Regions from separate parts of the Homo sapiens genome. Here region 2 is linked to region 1. The links come from fine-mapping of genetic effects on gene expression. A gene starts in region 1. The other region holds a variant in brackets. All regions are shown on one strand. Distances are from middle to middle. Region 1 holds the start of PROSER1 (proline and serine rich 1). Region 2 holds the start of STOML3 (stomatin like 3).

What was found. PIP is the estimated chance that this variant, and not a neighbour inherited with it, causes the effect.
Region 2: its variant is fine-mapped to the expression of PROSER1 in whole blood (TOPMed, PIP above 0.99).

The regions. Positions count from the first base shown.
Region 1 is chr13:39,034,803-39,043,150 of GRCh38, forward strand. It overlaps PROSER1 (proline and serine rich 1), which reads right to left and starts at 3,287. Exons shown (of 13, transcript NM_025138.5): 1 at 2,396-3,287. The coding sequence starts at 2,440. NHLRC3 (NHL repeat containing 3) reads left to right here and starts at 3,654. Exons shown (of 7, transcript NM_001012754.4): 1 at 3,654-3,921; 2 at 4,334-4,486; 3 at 4,762-4,909; 4 at 7,303-7,503. The coding sequence starts at 3,838. RefSeq lists an enhancer at 1,516-1,625 and a silencer at 2,768-2,997.
Region 2 is chr13:38,988,128-38,996,475 of GRCh38, forward strand. STOML3 (stomatin like 3) reads right to left here and starts at 2,704. Exons shown (of 7, transcript NM_145286.3): 1 at 2,543-2,704. The coding sequence starts at 2,594. The variant A/G (reference allele first, on the strand shown) is at 3,995.

The sequences.
Region 1 (8,348 bases):
ACCTCAAAGAATTACTATGAAGACTATAATAGTGGACATTAGATGTGACATATAACAGGTATTCAGTAAGTGATGGTTCCTTTCCTTTTCGGAATCTATCAGTGGGTGAGAGAGAAGTTGGTGGCTTTGATGCAGCACTATCTAGAGCCCACTAAATCACACATGCTCCCCTTGCAGCTATTTGCTCAGCTTAGAGATGGAAACAGCTATCTTAAGTCAGTAGCCACTAATCATTAAAAATGAACTAATCCCTTTGCTTGTACTATAAAATAATTTTAATATTCATATTTTTCACATATATCATTCTGCTAGGAGAAAGTATTATGACCAGTCAACTGAAATATCCTGGGTGCTCAGTAGTTCAATATTCACTGAAAAGGGAGAAAATGGCATTCTAAATAATGTATTCCTAGGAGTTTTATTATCAATGTAATAATCGGACACAGTCAAATACAAGTTTCTGAACAAAGTCTTGGATTGTACTGATGCCAAGTCATATCTCAATTCTTCCATCAATGCCTGAGAGGCCCAGCTGTAACCCCAGGCAGGACAGCATGGTGCTCTGCAAGCATAGTTTGAATACTGCCCCCAGCCCCCAACTTACCACCTAGGGAGTCTTGAGCTGATAGTTAACCTCACAGAGAATAGGCCACCAGCTATAAGCAAGAAGTACAGTGCCTACACCTCATGCGTTGTAAGGAGAATCAAAACAAATAATGACTGGAGAAAGTGCTTAAAAACAGGCTCACAAAGTAAGTGCTCACTAATTAATAGCTATCATTCCCTCCTTTTTGAATAATCAGTTAACCATTGCTTTTTCCCCCTTTCTACTCCCTTTCCCAGTTCTTCTGCTAGTGGCTTCTTATATGCCTCTGTTTTAAATGACAGTAGTGACAATCAGTATTATCTATCATATAAACTCACTGTGATACTCAAGAGATGACCTGGTTTAAACTGACTTACATTTACAAAGAACGATTTTTAAGAAAATCAGTAGTAATGCTCATATTTAGATATGCCAATATTTTATTCCATTTTAATAGACCATGACAATGTTGATGTGTCTAATCACTCGGCAAAGCCAGCAGAAGATATATTTTAACTGCTGACCAGAAATACAGACTTAAGTTGCCATCTCATGTGAACAACACTTTCATATCTGGAAAATTTCCTATTCCCCTCTTTAGAATTTACTGTGACGTTTTTATGACACCAGGAAGAGAATATGCACACTGAGACCCTGTATCTTCCAAAAGTAAAAATCTGCTGGTCTACTTGGACTCACCAATTATTTTCTCATGAAAAGTAATTAAAAATCAGCCCAAGAACAAATTGTGACAAATTTCTAGGCATATAATTAGCAAACCAATATTTTATTTCAAAAATTAATTGGACACTTAGGTTTGCAAAAGCAGAACTTGTTCAAAAAAGAATGTTCAGTATTATCAAATATGAAAACTTAAACACGTCAATTTGAAAAAAGAAAAAAGCTGTATAAAAACAAAGCAAAACAGCAAGACCAGAGACAATTTTAATAATAGCTTTGTAAACTGAAATAAGCACCAGAGCACATGGCAACAATTTCTTCCGTTTCAGTCAAGGGTCGTAAAGGTATGCAGCTGACGAAAGAATAATTGCCCGGAAGGCCGAAGGAAAGCACCGTGTGTTGATGTAACAATGGTACATCAAGTCCTTACATTTTAAAATAAGTAACTTCTCGGTATTTTTGTGCTTGAGATATTGTTAGGCTCAAGACTACCTTCCAGAATTGTTGCTGTCTGGTTCACTCTGGGAAATGCGATCCACACAACAGCCTCAAAAAGCAGCAAAAACTTGGAAAGCAGGAGAAAAAAGTTTTGAAGCTCAAGTTATTGACGGCCAATTCCTAAGAACGTGACTTTAAACTTAATGCCACACTTACCATCAGGACACGAATTTTGCATGGCCAACGCAACAAATATACTCTACCTTATGCTTAGATTTGAAAACCCCATCATAATAACTACCATAAAAGAAACTTTCTGCGTATTACCTCTCGTTTTCAGTCACTCTTGTGTTACTGAAAGATGAGGCAATAAACTCAAAAATATTAAACCCCTTACCCAAAAAGTACAGAGCTATTACGGATTTGTAAAGCCGGCTTTGGAACCGAGGGCTTTACAAATGTAATTCCCACGACACCGTGCTGAGTCTCAAATTTGGCGTTAACGTAACTTAATTTCTATTTGTACTGGAAACGTATCAAGATATAAACTCCTCCATTACACGTGAAAATTCAAACCAATTTGGCAATCCTAGGACCCTTATTCTGCACAATCTCCATACAGTACCTCAAAGAGAGTCTAAAACACGAGAATTCATCTCATAAAATAATTCATGGAATCGGTCTAATTACCTTTCTAATTTCATCCAGCACCATTTCAAAGGACTTTTTATCCATCTTGACTACTATCCCGACGTGGTTTTAACAGTTATACTTGCAATTAAAAGACGTTCATCCCTGGTCTGCTCCGCCGATAGTAAAAAATATTTATAGCTGAGGAGGAAAAAGACTCCACGAGCAAGAGAGGATGCGAAGAGGTAGAGAGTATTGCAAACTTCGCAAAAAAAATTTCTAAAAATTGAGATTCAGAAAAACTCTTTTTATTAAAAAGAAAAAACACTCCAGTCAGGCTTCCCCAGCTTATTCACACAATGGTTCAGGGCACCTCGGGCAAGAGCCAGGTCCTCTGAGTTTTGCAGAAAAACCCGGGCTCGGCGGCAGGTTTGAGTGCGGTTTCCCTGCAGCTGAGGGCCAGGTGCCGCCAGAGGTAGCTCTTGAAGGCGCTTTCCCAGGTGGAGCGGCCGGCAGAGTAGAAACACCTGCGCTCAGAGTCCACGGGCGGCGGGGAGGGAGGCGCCGGTCTCTCGACCCGCACCTGCGCCTCGGCCGCCGGCCGCGACCCTCACCGCCGCGAACCCGGACGCATGGTCCGGCTCGCGCTCATCCCCAGCCGCTCCGCCCGACTCCTGGATACCTCGGCCCCGGCAGCAGGCGGCCCGGCAGGCTCTTTGTTACCAGCTGCTGCAGCTTCCGGGAGCGGGCCGGCGGCTGGGGAGCACCAGGAGCCGGGCGAAGAGGGGCACGGCCTCGCATAGGGGGACTCCGGAAAAACGCAGCCCCAACAGCGCCAGACGCCCTGCCTGGTTACCCCTACAGCCCCCACCAGCTCATGGGGACCTACAATAAAGCCAGTCGCGCCCAAGTAAACTCAACACTGCGCCGCCAGCTTGGGCCCCTCTTTCCTGAAAGCCAGAGGTGGGGTCCTGGTGTGGGAATATAGGCATCCATAGCGGATGCCTGGATGGTAGGAATAGGATGTGGCAAAAATCCTTCCCGAAGCCTAGCGGTCATTATTTTGAATGTCATCCCCACCATACCTCGTGTCTGAGTGTGCGATGTTTTGATTTTGCCCTCTGGATTAAAAAGAATAAATGGCGAGCGATTAAGGCATATCTACGGGCGCCCATACTTTGGTGGCCACTGAAAGTCAGCGGCGCGGACTGCCCTGAGGGCGGGAAAGGGTGGTCACTGGGTCAGCCCGAAGCACCTGACATGAGGGCGGGGACCCCGAAATGCACACGAAGTCCGGAACTGGTCTTCTGTGATTTTCATTCGCCCTGGTCTCTGTTCCCTTTCGTACTCAAAGCTCGTGCATCCAGGGAGGGGAAACCGGAGATAGGGTCTTCGGGCCCCGGGCAGACCCTCTGTGCCGCTGCAAACCGTTGCAGCCTGAGGCTGTCAGGTCCTCCCCCAGACACCTGCGGACCCTCCCTCTCCTGGCTTCCCGTCTGGTCATGGCGAGATTCTGGGTCTGCGTAGCCGGTGCTGGCTTCTTTCTTGCATTTTTGGTTTTGCATTCGCGTTTTTGTGGCTCTCCAGTGAGTTGGGTAGTGAGGAAATGACTGTCGGGTGTGCGGGTAGCCCTGTTGGGAGGCGTCGCCACGGTCGTGGCATGGAGGTGGCAGGCCCTGGTTCCCTCAGTAGCTTGTCTCAAAGCCTGCACCTGGGTCCAAACTGCCTTGACCCTTTGAGTTTAAAAATTTGTGTATGTTACATCGCCATTTTCCTCTTTCCCAACTCTTACTACATCCTCAAATAATTTGCAGACTTGTATTGTGGTCGTGTTGGTCTTTAGGCATCTAAGCTCATTTCTTTGGAATTATTTCAGTCCAGCAAACTTCTAGTTGTCAAGGCATGCTTAAAAATAAGCCCTGTTACCCGGCCCCCCCGCCCTTTTTTTGTTCTTACCTAGACGGTAAACTAAATCTGAATTGTCTGATTTTGTTTAAGGTTTTGAGGAACTTTACTTTTGCAGTTTCCTGGAGAACTGAGAAAATTCTTTACCGGCTGGATGTGGGTTGGCCTAAGCACCCAGAATATTTTACCGGAACAACATTTTGTGTTGCAGTTGACTCCCTCAATGGATTGGTTTACATAGGTCAAGTAAGTAAATAGAGATTTAAAAAAATTATGAACACAAAGGAAGTAACAGCCTTCCTGTCTTGCTGTAGTAACTGACCATATGCGTTTATATCATGCTAATTGTGCAATTTATTTTTGAGTTGGTCTCAAGTATTTTGGTTTCGAATGTGAAAGATATGTTAGATTTTGAAAGTGGTTTTTGTAGTAAAATTCTCAGTTATTTTTTTTCTTCGCCAAGATACAGATTACCTTTCCTTTAAGCTGATCCTAAGAAGTTATTTTTTGTATACCTTCAGAGAGGGGATAACATCCCAAAGATATTAGTGTTCACAGAGGATGGATATTTCCTACGAGCCTGGAATTATACAGTTGACACACCTCATGGTATATTTGCAGCCAGTACTCTATATGAACAATCCGTCTGGATCACGGATGTAGGAAGTGGTATGTATAGTAATATCTATTAAATTATCTTACTGGAAATCACATCTTTGCACATGTCCTTGTTTGTATTGTTTAAAATCAGAGTTGCTGAATCTAATTGTAATTTCTTTAACGATTCATGAAATCACATGTTTTTAACAAACTTTATTTTGTACTTCTGTGGAATTAAGAAATTTAACAAGGGCTGGACGCCGTGGCTCACGCCTGTAATCCCAGCACTTTGGGAGGCCGAGGCGGGCGGATCACGAGGTCAGGAGATCGAGACGATCCTGGCCAACACGGTGAAACCCCCGTCTCCACTAAAAATACAAAAAAAAAAAAAAAAAATCAGCCAGGCGTGGTGGCGGGCGCCTTTAGTCGCAGCTACTGGGGAGGCTGAGGCAGGAGAATGGCGTGAACCCGGGAGGCGGAGCTTGCAGTGAGCCGAGATCGCGCCACTGCACTCCAGCCTGGGTGACACAGCGACACTCTGTCTCAAAAAAAAAAAAAAAAAGAAAGAAATTTGACAAGGAGCCTGTTAATATGATCTTTCCTTGAACTTGTCTAGGGTCTTTTCCTCTTTAAAGCATCAGTTGCTCTTCTCAGATTAAATAACTCTAAACTGAAGCCAAATAAAGTGGCAGTCTCTGAAAGCAATGACTGGAATCCTTGACTCTTATTTTCCTTTTCCAGTTTTCTTTCATAAAAGATTGTGAAATCGTAACTGCTTTGTTGCTCAAAGTGCAAAGATTGCAGAAACTGTTGTTAATGTTTTTGAAATTCTACTGACTGAAGCATGTCTGAAATCTTCCTGCCATCAAATATTTTTAGTAGAAAAAGCTGAAAAATGAAGTGAGCACAACTGAATGTGCAGCTATGGAGAAAGTTTTCAGAGAAACAATTCACCTGTGGCTGTAGCTTAAGACAAGGCAATACCTGAGATATCCTGGCATTACCCTAGGAATTCAGGAAGAAATGGGATTATAAAGACATTATTTCTAGTATTCCTTGGCCCAGTTATGTTCTTGAATTGAGAGACATCCTGGTTCTACAGTCCTGGCTGATTCAGATACCATTTTTTAGAGATAATGAGTTCTCAGTTTCTGTAAGTAGTGCCATTATCACAGCTGTTCTCAGAACCCATAAGATTTCTGGGCCTCAGCTGATGGCCCATTTATTTCATGCTGTGTTTTACATAGTATGAATCTGGTTCAACCAAAAAAAGTCTATAGATTATCACTGAGTGAATTGTTAATACTATAATGAGAGTCTATTTTCACTTTTTTCCTGAAGATCCACTGTTAAAGACCATTTCTTTGAGTTCATTTTATTCATGTGATTTTTAAAAATAAGACTTCCTTGATTCCCAGAAATAAAAAGAGCACAGACGATCTCTTCATTTTTTCCATTACAGCTAATTTTCTACCCAGAGATCTGAAGACAGTTTTATATTCCCATTTCCCAAAGGAATAAATTTCCTCTAATGAAAAATATGGCTACAAATTAGCCTTTTTTTTTTGAGAAAATTTTTTATTGGTAGTCTTTTTTGCTAGTTTTTAGAAACTTGGAGGCTTATGTGTTTTTTATTGCTATGAACTTTAGCTCAACTGTCTAAAAGTGTAATAGTAAATAAATTATTTAACATAGAATTGTAATGCAAGCTGATTCACTTTCTTTCTGGTAAGCTCAATGTATCCAGTTTGTCTTTTGAATACCTATCAATTAATTTGGCATATGTACCTTCAAATTGATTTCTGTTCACTGCTTTATGATATTCCCTTATTAGTAGTCTGCTTTATGCTCTTGCTTGTAAGATAATTTTAACTTAAAGAAATTTTAACGTGAGAAAATAAGATACTCATGATTTACAAAGATTATTTTCTTCTTAGCAAAGAAAAGTTGGGTTGAATTTTGAATGTCTCCACAAGGTGAAAATGCAGTTAAAAAAAAAATCTGTACCATAGAGAACGTTTTTGTTGACTTACTGAAATTTAAGGTCTGTATGTGAGTGATTGAAATAACAGTTTCAAATATAAGTTGTTCCCTTTACATTTTCTTCTTGATTTCCTTTCATAAGCAATGCTTATTCAAGGTCATAAGATTAAAAAAGAAAATGGTGCACCAATACTTTGTTAGCATTCTGAGTTTCCTGTATAATGAGTCAATTATGGGGATGTTATTTATTTGAATTTAGAATCCGCTTATTTTGGACTAATGGAGATTTTAATTCGTGATCAAATTTGGCTGTAATTTACGAAGAAGCTATAGTGCTTGTCAATTATATGTAATTTCCTAAGCCTATCACCTATTTGTTATTATTTACTTCTATCAAATTTTTGCTCTTAGCTTACTTGAAAAATCTGAATGTTTGTATAGTGGTTTTATTTGTGAGATGTACATATCTATCTTTATAGGATTCTTTGGTCATACTGTTAAAAAATACAGTTCTTTTGGTGATCTTGTTCAAGTCTTGGGTACTCCAGGCAAAAAAGGCACTAGTTTGAATCCTTTGCAGTTTGATAACCCAGCAGAATTATATGTAGAGGACACAGGAGATATTTACATTGTGGATGGAGATGGAGGATTGAATAACAGATTGATCAAACTGTCCCAAGGTACATTACTTGTTTATGGTATTATAAAAATATTATAAATTGATTTTAATTTGTTCGATATTTGGTATAATGTTTTAAGTGTTGTGTATGAAGCGGTGTGTAAAGAGCTAAGTGTATTACTACGAGAAAACTGAAAAACAGATGGGTATGATTGCCCACAATAAATGATCCTGATAACAGGCCCACTTATTCTTCACCAAAGGCCAGGAGATTCCTCCAAAAGTAACTGGCAACAGTATGAGAATTTCTAGTGGGCTCAGGAGATAAGTGTGTATCCTATTTAATTAAGCATGTAGAAATTAGAAACCTAGAATCCCAGACTCAAGTATCCTACAGGCTGATTAATCAGCAAGCATTTTATTGAGTGCCCTTTCTGTGTCCTCTCTAGTATCAGGAGGTGCAGATCTATTATGTATTGAAACAATGAAATGTAGTCTATGCTATTGATTCTTAAAGCAAAATGGACTTAGGAGGAGAAACTAAATTGCCTGGAGAAATAGAACAAGATATCATGAAGGAAGTAGTTATTGAACTAAACTAGTTTTGGTGGGAGGAGAGGGGAGGATGGATGGAACATTCATGGAGGGTTTATCATGCATGGTCTACAGGCATTTATTAGCAGGAAAGAAGGTGAAGATGCACTTTTTCAGCAGCAGAAAATACAATTTGGGATGTTTCTGAAGTCTTATTTGAGGATTATTAAAGCCATGTTTTTGCCTATAACATTTTTGAGGTTTTCCTAGTAGAAAAGTGATGTTACAACAGCAGGTTTTATAAGACATTCTTTTAGGATCTACTTCAAGTGAGCTCTGTCATTTGGAGGCTGTGTAGTCAATTTATCAATT
Region 2 (8,348 bases), 47 kb before region 1:
ATTTTATATCATATATTTTATATCATATATTTTATATATAATATATTATATTTTATATAAAATATATTATATTTCATATAAAATATATGATATTTTATATCATATATTTTATATATAATATATTATATTTTATATCATATATTATATATAAAATATATTATATTTTATATCATATATTTTATATATAATATATTATATTTTATATATAATATATTATATTTTATATCATATATTTTATATAATATATTATATTTTATATCATATATTTTATATAAAATATATGATATTTTATATCATATATTTTATATAAAATATATTATATTTTATATCATATATTTTATATATAATATATTTTATATCATATATTTTATATATAATATATTTTATATCATATATTTTATATATAATATATTTTATATCATATATTTTATATATAATATATTTTATATCATATATTTTATATATAATATATTATATATCATATATTTTATATATAATATATTATATTTTATATCATATATTTTATATATATTATATATTGAAATTTTATATATTTGATATCAAACACATCATTAAAAAGGTGAAAAAATAAGTGACAACTGGAAAAACATATTTGCCACTTATGTGCTGTCAGGTATATCAAGTATTCATAAGTACATATTACAAGTTATATATTATAGTATATAGTATATATAATTATATATACTATAATACATAATATATATTATATATGCTGTATTATATAATATATATTATTACATATTATATACTATACTATAGAATACATAATATATATACTATATTATACAATATATTATATATACTATATTACACAATATATTATATATACTATATTACATAATATATATCATACATTATATACTATATTATATAAGATATATGTTATATATGTTATATTGTATTATATATATTTTTTATATATATCTGAGTTGCAAGGGCAAACTTAGTCCACAGATCTCAGAGAATGGTCCACACTGTATCTCTCCTAAAAAACTACAAAAGCACAGGAAATCAGACATTGCAAATATATCAGCCCCATTTTGTTCATTCTGTGATAGTGCCAGTTTTTCATATTCAAATATCGAAACCAAGAAAACTCATGAGTACTTTCAAGAATCTCACTGATGATACAGCTTCAGTCATGCCATCTACCCAGTTGATGTCTTCACCTGTTAAAATGGAAACTAAATGTCTCATGAAGGATAAATAAGGGGACTCTTGAGATCTCCCGCTTGCATTTCCAGATGATATTTACTGCCTTCAAGCTTTTCATGCCTACTTCAAAAGAAAAGTTTCTTTTCCAATTCAGGTAAATGTCTCTAAATGTATACTTTTTCTTTTTTCTTTCTTTATTCCATTTTTTTTTCTTTGTTAGGCAGGGTCTCACTCTGTCACCCAGGCTGGAGTACAGTGGTGCAATCTCAGCTCACTGAAGCCTAAACCTCCTGGGCTCAAGCAATCCTCCCACCTCAACCTCCCACTTAGCCACAGGCATGTGCCACCACACCTGGCTAAATTTTGTATTTTTTGTAGAGATGAGTTTTTGCCATTTTGCCCAGGCTGGTCTCGAACTCCTGAGCTCAAGTGATCTGCCTGCCTTGGCCTTCCAAAGTGCTGCGATTACAGGGCATGCACCAGTGCATGCAGCCTAGTTTTTTCTTTTATGTATTAGTAATGCCAAACGTGTTCTCTATTTCTAACATGTACTATGGCTTTTTTGGCAACATAAGGTACAGAGCACAGGTTAGGTCATACACACACGCACACTCACACCATCATCACACACACACACACGCACACCATCATCATAATCACTTTCTGAACAACTTTTTAAACTTTCCAATGCTCAGTTTTCTCATTTGTAAAATGAGATTCTAAGAGGATCTACCTCAGAATTATTGTAAAATTGAAAGAGATAATGCAAGCAAAATGCTTTGTAACACATAATAGTCATTAGTATTAATGATAGTAGTTGGTACTTATAAGCTAAGTTTTTTTTCTCAACTTCTCTCCATTTATCAAACAGGATACAGCTCAAACCAACTTTTCTTTTTAATCTCAGCATCATCAGAAAATGTTTGAAGTTGGAGAAAAGTCAGCCTCTTCAACATATCTTTGTTATTTAATACAAAAAGAAGAAATACAAAGATAAACACCAATTCTATCTAAAATTGAATGAAAAATAAAGCAAGTTATAGACTGCTGTTCAAGAAGCAAATGAAATCAGCATAAGCAATGAATTCAAAATCCTGAGAAGGATTTCATACAGAAAGAAGAAATTCAAAGATAAACACCAACTTTATCTAAAATTGAAGGAAAAATAAAGCAAGTTATAGACTGCCGTTCAAGAAGCAAATGAAATCAGCATAAGCAATGAATTCAAAATCCTGGGCTATAAATGAAATTGAGGCCGATTTCTGCAAATATATCTCATACTTACTCTATACCTGTCTATAATGCTACAACTCCTGCTTTGCCATATATGTAAAAAACAAGCCTAAGACAGGAAAAAGGAACTTACCCACGAAATTCTCTTTATCTTGCTTCTCAGGTGAAGACACCCTAGAATCCATCTCATTCTTGAGAAGCTTTTATACTTGGCAATTTTTCATGGGTTTGGAGCTAAGTGTGAAGAACAGGCAGCAACTCAGATGTGCTTGGGAGAGGGGAGAGGAGAAAGTATGAGAGAGTGAAAGACATTCCTTCTCTTTAGTGAACTCCCTAAGGGGTAGTTACCCTGGTGAGGGAAGCCTGATAACATAAACAAAAAGATTTCTTTTATGAGTTCAGACTGCCTTTGTTCACAGAAAAAACTTGAAAGAATATGACCATCTGGTGGTATTGCTTCCTGTAAAATATTGCTGTGTAATTTTCTATAGCATTTATATTTCATAAAACACTTCTATGCACCTTGTATAAATCTTGTGTGATCACTGATTACACAATGACCTGTTCAATACACAGGGCAAGTGTATCCATCCTTATGTTTCAGATGAGAAAATTTAACCCAACTCATTCTAACACTGCAGTGAGTGAGCTTTTGAAACTCAAATCTGATCATGTCTTCATCCTGCTTAAAATAATCAAAAAATTGCCAACTGTCAATATTGTAAAGACCAAACTCCTAAGTGTCCTACAAGACCCTGCTGGCCTGCCCCTTCCTCCCTTTCCAGCCTCACTCATGTGTCTCTCCGTGAAGCAGCTCCATTGGTCTCCTATCAGTGCCTCCAAAGCTTGATATGTCTTCTCGCCACCGGATCTTTGCACGTGTTATCATATGCATAATTTTTTGGCTTGTGTCTGTTTCTTCTTCTAGACCAAGAATTGACAAACTTTAGCTTGCCAGCTAAATTTAATTTACCACTTGTTTTTAAAACATAAAGTGTTATTGGAACACAGTATGTCCTTTTGTTGCTTTCTTTTTTTTTTTTTTTTTTTTGAGATAGGATTTCACTCTGTTGCCCAGGCTGGAGTGCAGTGGCACAATCACAGCTCACTGCAATCTCGACCTGCCAGGCTCAAGCAATCTTCCTACCTCAGCCTCTTCAACAGCTGGGACTCCAGGTGCACACCACCATACCTGGCTAATTTTTAATTTTTTTTTTTTTTAGAGATGGGGCCTCACTATATTGCCCAGGCTGGTCTCAAACTCTGGGCTCAAATGATCCTTCAGCCTTGGTCTCCCAAACTGCTGGGATTGTAGATATGAGCCACCATGCCCAGCTCTTTCATTTTTGTATTGTCTGTGCTCACTTTTGCACTGCACCCGTGGATTTGAGTAGTTGTGACACAGACCATACAAGCTGTAAGGCCTAAAATATTTACTGTTTGTCCCTTCACAAAAAAAGTTTGCTGACCCCTGCCTTGCACTATACATTTCCATGAGGAGAGTGACTTGGTCTAACATTTCCATTGCATCTGCAACAATTAGAACAACGTGGGCACATGATTGATGTTCAACAATACTTGCTGA[A/G]TGAATGAATATATAAATCACAAATGAAAACAGCTCTCAAATGGCAAAGCTCTTTCTCAAATCCAGATCCTTAGGATCCTGTACTAGGATTCCTTCTTTCATCAGACCACATAGAACCACAGACAATTTTGTGGTTATTCCAATACTAAGAACACCAATTTTCTAATTTTCTGATGTTCATTTCTCTCATATCAATATCCCAAATATATCTTGTTTTTCTTTTGTATACCATTATATTTATTGTATGGCATTTATTATATTATATTGTATTATTTTGTGAAAACAGTAGAAAAAATCTCTAATCTCTCCCTGGCCTTCTTGTCTTTTCTGGTTTTTCTTCTGCCAACCACCTAGTTATTTCCTTCTTTGCAACTTCATCTTAAAACTTTTCTCAGATTCCAGCCTGGGCAACATGGTAAAACCCCATCTCTACTAAAAATACAAAAATTAACCAGGCATGGTGGCATGCACCTATAGTCCTAGCTACACTGGAGGTTGAAGTGGGAAGATTGATTGAGCTTGGGAAGCAGAGGTTACAGTGAGTCAAGATGGCTCCACTGCACTCCAGCCTGGGTGACACAGCGAGACCCCAACTCAAAAAAGAAAAAAACAAAAGTAAAAAATTTTCCAGGTTATGGGTTATTTATACCAACTACTTGATAATCTTGATTGCCTTTTCCACAAACTCAAATTGTGGAAATAACTACTATGGCTGTCATCCACAGTTTGTAATTACAATAATTAATACAGAGTTTTAGAAATTTAGGAAAGGAGACAAGAACACAGATTAAAACAGACATGCATAATGTGTGCAGAGTCAGCAACTGTCTGCTCTAGGATAGTTTTCTCTGCACCTCCCTTAAACATCCTCGCTTACAGCTCCAAGTAGAAATGTTGCTGGAGGCACAGTGGGCAGGAGAGAAGGCTCTGGGCTCATACTGCCCAGATACAAAGAAAACTTTGCTCTGTCATGAACTAGTGTGTGACATTGGGTAAGCTATTTAACCTCTGTGTTTTATTTTTCTCATCTGTAAAATGGGGATGGTAATATAATATTTACCAAAGAGAGTTGCCTGTATGAGAATCTTATGAAAATTACATGTAAAATATTCAGAATAATGACTAACATTAATAAATGGTAACTATTATTACCATGAATGGAAGCTGGGCTGTATTTCTAAGGACTGAGTTAACTTCTCTCTACAATGGCAAGATTGGGCTAATTTTCACAATGTCTCCCTTGTCCCCTAATTTCAAGTGAAAGGAAGACTGATAGAGATTGATTTGGTATGTCCATACATTTATCAACTCTCTTCTCTCTCTGATCTAATGCTACCTTAAAAACTCGAGGCCCATTCCTGGTCTGTATTGTCATATAATTGCCATCCCGTTTCTTCCGGCCTCTACTTTATCACCATGTCATCATCACTTTGTAACTAACCTCTCATGGAAAGAGCAACAGAAAAACTTCCTGTTTCCATCATTTCTCCCGACTTAAGCCAAAGACAATCTTTGCCTGGAACTGAAAGCCCCTTTCCCTTTGAGTCAGATGCTTCTCCATAGTCATACAGCAAAGTGTTCTGGAGGTGCTAGTTTAGCTTATTTCTAAATACATTTTCTCTTAATATTAGCCAAATACCATTTATGCTAGCACTGCCAGTCACTGAGGTGGAAGGTTCAAAGCAACAGAAACAATAATTATTCCCTGGGAGCCACTACAAAGAGCCTCAAGAGTGCTTGCTATGGTCCATCCCTTTGGAAGATGACTAAGCAACTGTTTTTCTTTTTCCTAAAGAAAGTTTCAAATGTCTCAGCCTAGAAAGCAAGAAGGGTTTCAGCAAGCAATGAACACCTATGACAAACTGAATCCTCATAGCAGGGCCTCAGGAAATGAAACATGAGCTCATTTTCAAGTTTCCTACTTCTTTTTCTGTAAAATATAAATTAGCCCAGTGGATGAATTATTATCATCTGTGGATGTTCTTTCACTTATCCTGGGAAAGGAGGATACGGGAATTTCTGGAAGATGCTTCGGATGAAGACTTTTCAGTGTTTCTGCATTTTCATTTTATCAATTTCTGCACTAGTGAAAGTACTGAGATGAGGACAGCTTTTTATTTTATTTATTTATTTATTTTTTTTGAGATGGAGTCTCTCTGTCACGCAGCCTGGAGTGCAGTGGTGCAATCTCGGCTCACTGCAACCTCCGCTCCCCCTGTGCCAGGGGTCAAGCGATTCTCTGATGCCTCAGCCTCCCAAGTAGCTGGGATTACAGTCATGTGCCACCACGCCCAGCTAAGTTTTGTGTTTTTAGTAGAGATGGGGTTTTGCCATGTTGCCCAGGCTCATCTTGAACTCCAGGCCTCAAGCGATCCACCCAACTCAGCCTTCCAAAGTGCTGGGATTACAGGCATGAGCCAATGACCCTGGCTGAAGACAGCTATGTTTTTAAAAGGCCTAATTCTATTCCCACTCTTGACATACAGGACATGTGTCCTTAAGTATGTATATATTTTTTTCCCTGAATGTTCACCTTATAGCACAAACCCTCTCTTGAGACAATCCTTTCTAAACTTCCACCTATTTCCTTTCCTAAGCTTCTGGTTTCAGACATCACCCACCATCCTTTCTTGCTAAGATGTATCCAGGTGTTCCAGGACAGTGGCTGCTCTCTTAAGAAAACATGCCCTTTTCTTTAAATTGAAATTCTCTGATCTCTTTAACTTTTTTACGAATATACATCATACATTCTAACTTATCCATTCTCATTTATTCCATTCTTGAATTCCCACTTTTTTTTTTCTTTTTTTTTTTTGAGATGGAGTCTCACGCTCTGTCACCTAGGCTGGAGTGCAGTGGCCCAAACTCGGCTCACTGCAACCTCTGCCTTCCTGGTTCAAGCAATTCCCCTGCCTCAGCCTCCCAAGTAGCTGGGATTACAGATGCACGCCGCCACGCCCGGCTAATTTTTATGTATTTTTAGTAGACACGGGGTTTCACCATGTTGGCCAGACTGGTCTCGAACTCCTGACCTCAGGCAATCCACCCACCTCGGCCTCCCAAAGTGCTGGGATTACAGGCGTGAGCCGCGCCCTGCCGAATTCTCACATTTTAAAATGAGAAATTCGGTCTCCAAATCTGTAAAGATATTTATAGTGATAACTCCCCAAGCTGCAAATCTGGCTTATACCTCTCTTCAGAATAATAAATATTTTTAACTATCGGCTGACGAAACATCTCTACCTGGACGTCCCCCAATTAAATATTCTATACGTTAGAACGAAATCTATTGAATTAAGGCGTTTGTATTATGGAATACTGTTGATATATTTAACATGTATGTATTTATTGAATAAAGTAAACAACCATCAATATACCACACAACAGCACCACTAGAATATTACCAATACCATTGAAACTACTTGCATATTCCTCCTGGGTCTCATCCTCACCTCTCTAAAACCGTAATTTATAATTTTGTTGATTATTCTCTTGCTTTTAAAATAGAACCTTTTAAATTATATATTTACATTTCTAAAACACTTATGATTTAGTTTTGCTTTTGCCTTTTTAAAAAATACCCATGTAGGCTGGGGGCGGTGGCTCATGCCTGTAATCCCACCACTTTGGGAGGCCGAGGCGGGTGGATCACGAGGTCAGGAGATCGAGACCATCCTGGCCAACATGGTGAAACCTCGTCTCTACTAAAAATACAGGAATTAGCTGGGCATGGTGGCGTGTGCCTGTAATCCCAGCTACTCAGGAGGCTGAGGCAGGAGAATCACTTGAACCGGGGAGTCAGAGGTTGCAGTGAGCCAAGATTTTGCCACTGCACTCCAGCCTGGCAACAGAGTGAGACTCCATCTCAAAAAAAAAAAAAAAAAAAAAACTCATGAGTGCTCTGCAATTTCCTTTGACATTCCATATTATGTTGCAGGAAGCTATTGCTCTTTAATTTTTAGTGCTATTTAAGACATAGAAGTGTAAACGGGCCACAGTTCACTTATTTATTTGGATACTTTTAGGTTTTCATTATTACAAATGATACTATCATGAATGTTTTGTACATATCTTCTGGTTGTGTATACATGCAAGAGTTTCTCTAAGGCCCTAAAATCCAGATATATACATCTTGAGATGAAACTGTTATATTTTATGTTCAACTTTACAAGATTATTGTAAACAACTTTGTAAAAATATTTTCCAAAGTAGTTTATGTCAATTTAATCTTACTAGTCGTGTACAAGTATTCCTTTTGTTCCAAATCATTGATGGCACTTGTTCATACTTGACTATCTGGTCAGTGTAAAATAGCATTTCATTATAATCTGACTTTAGATTTCTCGGAGTTTTA